Linked DNA regions of Homo sapiens. The protein of the gene in region 2 interacts with the protein of the main gene of each other region in a pairwise test. Each region holds a gene or a part of one and is shown on either strand. Other genes may lie near its edges.

Region 1 (3,820 bases), on a different chromosome or scaffold from region 2:
TGGTGGGGCCCGGGGAGCCCTGCTGTGGCCGCCACTCACCAGGTAGGCGGTGAAGGCCTCGGCGTCGGCATCCACCAGCGTGGTTAGCTTGGCCGAAGCCTCGCGGAAGGGCGGGATCAGGCGCCGCATCGTCGTGTCCAGGGACTGGAATTGGCGCCGCCCGTAGGTCATGAGGCCCACCATGGAGCCCAGCGCCGCACCCTGCGAGAGGGGTGGATGTGGGGGTCGCAGGGACCCCAGACGGCCCGGGACCGACCCCAGGAAGAGCCAGGGGCCCGGGTGATCCCTGCGGGGGTCCCACCCGTGTGGCCCCCACGTCTCCACCCAGGGCGGCCCCACCGCGCCCTCCCCACCCCGTGCCCTCCCCCCAACAGCGCCCTTCCCCCTCCCCGCCCTCCCCCCAACAACTGCGCCTCCCCTGCCCCTCCCCCCGCGCTCACCATGGCCGCAGCGGCCGCCGCCACCGAGCCGCCCCCGGGGGCCGCAGAGCGGGCACCCACCTCCCCCACGAAGGCGCGCAGGGACTTGCTGCCCAGGCCTCGCTCAGGCCCGCGCTCAGGGACCAGGTACCTGCAGGGTGGGCGCGGCTCAGCGGGTCTGGCCGGGGTTGGTGGGGGGAGCGCAGTCCTCCCGGGGCGGCCCCAGGCCCCACGCCCGTCTGCACCCACGGGGAGGTGACCACTCGGCTGAGAACCTGCGGGGACCCGGCCGGGGTCTCTGTGCCCCCCTCAGCCCCCAGACCCCGGCTTGGCGCAGGCCGAGTAGGCGCCCAAAGGGAGGCGCTGGGAGGACTCAGCCGGGTCTCCACGCAGGGACCCCAGCGCCCCGCAAGGCCCGAGAGGCAGAGCCCGGGAGGGGTGAGAAGAGGGCGGGAGGGCAGAGGCTCACTCGATGATCCGCTCCTTAGGGCTGAAGGGGCACAGGGAGTCCAGGCCCAGCCGGCTCACCACCTGGAAAAGGGGCTTGGAGTGGAAACGGCCTCGGCGCGTCTCCACCACCAGGAAAGCCTCGGAACCCGCGGGTCCCACCCTTGCGGCAGCCGCCCCCTGCCCCGAGCACACAGGTGCTTTTGCGGGGAGCAGGGCAGGGGCGTGGCTGGCACCCCCCACCTCTGCCCCGCCAGGAGCCCTGTGGGCCCCGCCCCAGCAGGCACCCCGTACAGGCTTCTGGAAACAGCCATCACCCTGAGTTGCCCTTGGGGAACCTGAGGCCCAGAGAAAGGAGTTGCCCCCTGGGGACCCCTCAGCAAACTGCTGCTCATGCTTCGCCGCCCCCCAGCACCACTGCCCCATCGCTGACGGGCGGGAAAGATTTTAATTCACCAAGTCTTCACATCTAACAAGTCCTCAAAAGCTGAGGAACAGCCCCAAGTCACCCACACATAAACTTGTATGCCACAAAAGTGAGTTTTACCTAAATTCAAAATAAAGTTGTGACAGTCCCATTTAAGATTAGAATTCATTCTGGGAAACCCATTCAGAACACGTTGGCTATGCGACCCCCACCCCACCCCACAGAGACGGACAGCAGCCGGGCGGGGTGGAGAGTGCCTCCCCGTGGCATAGAACCAGCAAGCCACAAGGCAAAGCCTCCTTCCGCAGAAAACCCCAGGAAGATGCCGGGCATTTTAAAGGCCTGGCTAAGCTAGCAGACAGGACATCATTCGAAACCAGACACGACCAGAAAGACGAGTCCGGAAAGGCCTGCCAGCCTGGAGCTGGGTCTGCCCTGGGGGCAACTGCCCCTCTCTGGCAGCCCCTGATGAGTGGGGGAGGTCTGGGGCCTTCAGAGTGGGGTCCGACTGGAGACCCCTGGAAGGTGACACCCCCAAGGATGAATTAGAAACAGCCACCCGCCAGAGGAAACAGTTGAGGTACTTCCCAGTCCCTGCCTTCCCTTTGGGTGAAGCAGGAAAAAAAAAAAAATCTCCTGGGAATTCCTAATCACAAGCCACCCTGACAGGGCTGCAGGCCTCACCCGACACCGAATTCACTCTTGTGTGGTTCCAGAACTCCAAGCCAAAAACTCAGCTTCAGGGGGTCCTGTGAGGCAGTGTCCACAAGCGCCAGCACAAACCCTCCTTGGAGGAGAAAACTTTGAACCCAGGTGTCCAAGAATTACCATAGATAAAATTCCACAGAGCATGCACTGGCAATCAAAAATCACACAACACAAAGCAAAGCAGCCTCACCACAAGGAGGCAGCACGCAGCCACGGGCACAGCCAGACCTGTGCAGGCCGCAGGCATGGGGCCCTTCAGGTAAAGAAGACAAAACCCCAGCCAGTCACGGTGGCTCACGCCTGTAATCCCAGTGCTTTGGGAGGCTGAGGCGGACGGATCACGAGGTCAGGAGTTCAAGACCAGCCTGGCCAAGATGGTGAAACCCCGTCTCTACTAAAAAAAAAAAATACAAAAATTAGCCAAGTGCGGTGGCACACGCCTGTAATCCCAGCTACTCGAGAGGCTGAGGCAGAGAACTGCTTCAATCCGGGAGGTGGAGGTTGCAGTGAGCCGAGATCACACCACTGCACTCCGGCCTGGGTGACAAAGTGAGGCTCCATCTCAAAAAAAAAAAAAAAAAAGAAGAAGACAAAACGCCACACTGGAAAGCAGACGGGGCCTCACACATAAGAAGACAAGGAAATGTGGAGAAGCGACAGCTGCTGCTTAGACAGAAAGGATGACGTTGGAATGCTGTCACTGGCTCCTAAAACTCTGGAATTTCAGTAATAAACAGGTATTTACCTACTCAATACTTTAAACACCTTCAAGTACTCCCCACAACGTATTAATTGCAAAAGGAAAAATAGTAACATTGCAGTGAAGGGTCCAGGAGGAAGGGGGTCGCCTTGGCAAGTGACGGGTCCACGTCGGCACCCTGAGAAAATGAGCATCATGGGGAGTCGGCGTCTCTGAGGAGGACACAATACCATCTATGCTTTTCCTGCCAAAAATGCGTAACTGGCTGGGCGTGTTGGTGCACACCTGTCGTCCCAACACTTTTAGGAGGCTGACGTGAGTGGATTGCTTGAGTCCAGGAGTTTGAGACCAGCCTGGGCAATAGAGCAAAACCCCATCTGTACAAAATTAGCCAGGACTACATAGTGGTCCTTGCCTGTAATCCCAGCACTTTGAGAGGCTGAGGTGGGAAGATCACCTGAGCCCTGGAGTTTGGGGCTGCAGTGAGCTGTGATTGTGCCACTGCACTCCAGCCTGGGTGACAGAGCAAGACCCTGTCTCAAAAGAAGTAACAAATTAAATTAAAATAAAAATGCACAACTACATCTGGCCACAAGCAACATCAGACTAGTCCCCACTGAGGCGCTTTTAAAAGTCTGTCCTTTGAAACTATGTCAAGGTCAATGAAGGACAAGGAAGACAGGAACAGTTGGAAGAAAGGAGAAAAGGTTGGCTCAGTGCTCTGTGTTACGTGAACTGGATCACGGATTGGAGGAGAAATCGCTATGATGGGAATCACTGGGACACTGAAGCAATTTGATTATGGCCTGAGGATTATTAGATACTAGGATTGTATCAGTGTTGAATTTCCTGATTTTGATAATTACACTGTGGTTATGTAAGAGAATGTCCCTGTTCTTAAGAAACACAGCCTTAATAAATTAGGGGTAAAAGAGTACAATGTCTTCAACCCAACTTTTAAATAGTCCGGAAAAAAATATAATATGATTATACACAAATAAATGGGGCAAAATGCAAGCACTTGGAAAATATGGGTGGGAGGCAGGAGTGGAGGGCCACCTGTATCTTCTCTGTAAGAAATTATACAAAATGTAAAGTCACAAAAAATTTTGTTAACAG
Region 2 (2,915 bases):
TTTCCTGCCTTGGGGCATTTGCATGTGTGTTACTTTTTTCCTGACAGTTCATCATTCAGATCAGAGGTCACCACTTAGGAGGTCCTCCTGTGACCCATTCTGAAGTGACCCTCTAGACACACTCAATTCACATACTGTGATTTACATTATTAAGCAGGATGTAATTACAAACTAATATTTTTATTGCCTCTTCCCCACCTCACAGCCACTAACTAGGATATATGTTACTCACTTACTAACTAGGACACAGGGTCTCACCAGAGCCTAAAGTGGAATCTGCTATATGCTAATTTAAGTGTTCAATACATATATGTTGAATTAATAACTGCAAGTACAGAAGGTACTAACTTTTGAGTCAAAAGGACTAGCTGACTTCAAATAAAAATTCTAAATTCTCAAATATTAAAAATATGTTGGGATATAGCCCTAAATTCACAACTGAGATGAATTACACCATTCAGAAGGTTGTGGCTTCTAAGAATCTGAACAAAAAGGAACCAGGCAGAAATGCCAACTTAAAATGAAAATGTTTATATAAATTAACCCATCCAGTTTAAAGTAGATTTGCTATGCTTCACTTACTTAAGGAAGAATATATACTTCCTATATTAATAAATCACATCAAATAAGTAGGAAGTTTCAATAACAAGCCTGTAGATACATTGAAACCCCTTTTTATATTAAAAGTTAAAATGAAAGACAAATCCAGATTGAACATAGTGATTGCAAAATATAATGCAATTTTCAACAATTAAAATTATGAAAATATACAAAATTGATGGGCAACACAACTAGGCATTTGTACATTTTCCATTATGTGGAGAACACTACAAGTTTCTCTACCTTTTATCTACATCAGATAAATGATTTAAACCAAATGTTTGCTTTGGAGAGTCTTAACTTAGGATCTCAGTAGTATAAAAAGCAATAATTTTTCAGTCTGTAAACAGTAGTCGTGATTTTTCTCCTTTCCTTTTTTAAATATCAGTTTACCACACAAAAACAAACAAAACAAAAAAACCCATACAAATCAAAAACAGCAGCAGCAGCAATGGGTTATTTGGGAATTCTCTTCAAATACCAATGGCATACGATTGCTGGGAGAGGGTGCTTTTTACTCATGTAAGAATATATATATATATATATTTTTTTAACTGTACACAATTTATAGTACATGAGGGTTTCCAAAAGAACAGATTGATAAGAGATATTGGCCATTTCTGCATAATTTCATTCTTTTTACAATTATCTCAAAATGTGAAAGCTGGATCTAATTGAAATGCTACATTTAGTAGGAAAATCAGCAAATAACAAAGGAAGCATAACCTCAACATAACATTATTTGTCATTAAAGCCAGTAGAGGTCCCAGATATCTTTAGGCAAGAGACTGGTTAGGAAGACCACTAGAGTCACACACTGTCCCTGAGGACCAAGGCTAGCCCACTGAACATACATATGCTAGATTGATCATGGTCAGTCGATAGACTTTTTCAAAGAGCATTTCTACAGTACAGTACTTTTTTGGATATTCAGAGAGACATCATTTCAAGAACACACGCCATACACATGTACCCCACCCTCCCCAGCAGACACACACAAAGTTCCATCTTAAACAGGCCATAGTTTTATGAAAGAATATGTTGTCATTACATGAAATTCAGAATTAACCACAATTTTCCATTCATCTTGTTCAAGACAGTTCTTCCTTTTGGGATAGGGTATATGACCAGCTGTTGCTACTCATATCAAAAATAAATTTTTGAAATTAGTTGATGGACTAGGATTTCCAACAAGCCTTATTTTGAACAGGTAATGTAGTAATTGTTTAAAATTTCCTTGGAAGTTTAAGCACTGTATCAAATTATGAATCTAAGAAAGTCAAAATGAAGGGACAAAATGCAATTACTTTGCGTACACAGATATTCCCAGCTCTCTTGGTTGCTTTTAAAAGAAAAAAGTACCACATTTCACTGGAGCAGTGCAGGTTGGAAAGCACCTTTAAGGTCTTCAAGACCAATCCTCCATTGGATGCTTAATTTCCTCATCAAATTCATTTCTTTGCTCTTACAGAATTAAACTTGAACTATATTTAGGTAACAGACCAAAAACAGAAGCAGGGATTTAAACAGAAAAATATTATCAAAGAAACTGCATAAATTGTAGGACATTTTCAAGAGCAATTTTTACCTCTTCTATCAGACCAACCACTGATAGAAGAAGCTAGAGTCTTGGGGACATCCAGGTGAACAAAGTAAACACCATCCTGTTATAATTCTCTAAGTTTGAAGAAAGTAGTCCAAACCTCAAACCCACTGAATAACATTTCTTTTGCCAGCCTAAAACTTAAAGCCTAAGGCTAAATCCATAATATTACATTCCTTCCTTCCCAAACCCCCCACACTTAAAACATTAAAGTATTAAATCTTAATTTTCAAGTCATATATATATGTGTATATATATATATGTATATATATGACTCACAAAACCAATGAAATAAGTATCATACTTGCCTGCATAAATTATGTGCACCTCTCTTCTTTGAAACAGTCATTCCTATCTTTCCCAAATGTATGAAAGACAGAAAGCTAGTCCTCAGCGGGCTTAATAAGTGGTCTGCACTGCTTTCCCCTCTAAACAGCTATAAATTAACAGAGCCTTCCTTGCCTTCTTACCTGAGATTTTTAACTCTCACAGAAGCTAGGATGGGGATGTCTTAACTATCAGACAAAAACTAGCCAAAAACTAAGTGCCTGTGGTCATCCAAGTGGTGCCCTTCTATTGCGGGTGCATATGCCAGATCTCATCTAAGGTCCTTTGTGTACCTGCCTTGGGTTCTGTGGGAGCCAAGTAGCTGAGAAAGCCTCAAAACAAACTTACTGCTGTGAAAAGGGGGTCTGTTCCCAGGCATGGTCTC

Evidence for each region.
Region 1: the proteins of NAA25 (region 2) and FTCD interact in a two-hybrid assay, tested with the Homo sapiens proteins (one large-scale study listed by BioGRID and IntAct).

Annotation. Positions count from the first base shown.
Region 1 is NC_000021.9:46,145,378-46,149,197, forward strand, and holds part of FTCD (formimidoyltransferase-cyclodeaminase), read right to left. Parts: intron 951-3,820; coding exon 889-950; intron 571-888; coding exon 441-570; intron 202-440; coding exon 40-201; intron 1-39.
Region 2 is NC_000012.12:112,026,181-112,029,095, forward strand, and holds the end of NAA25 (N-alpha-acetyltransferase 25, NatB auxiliary subunit), read right to left. Parts: 3' UTR 509-2,915; downstream 1-508. UniProt on the Homo sapiens protein: Non-catalytic subunit of the NatB complex which catalyzes acetylation of the N-terminal methionine residues of peptides beginning with Met-Asp, Met-Glu, Met-Asn and Met-Gln. May play a role in normal cell-cycle progression.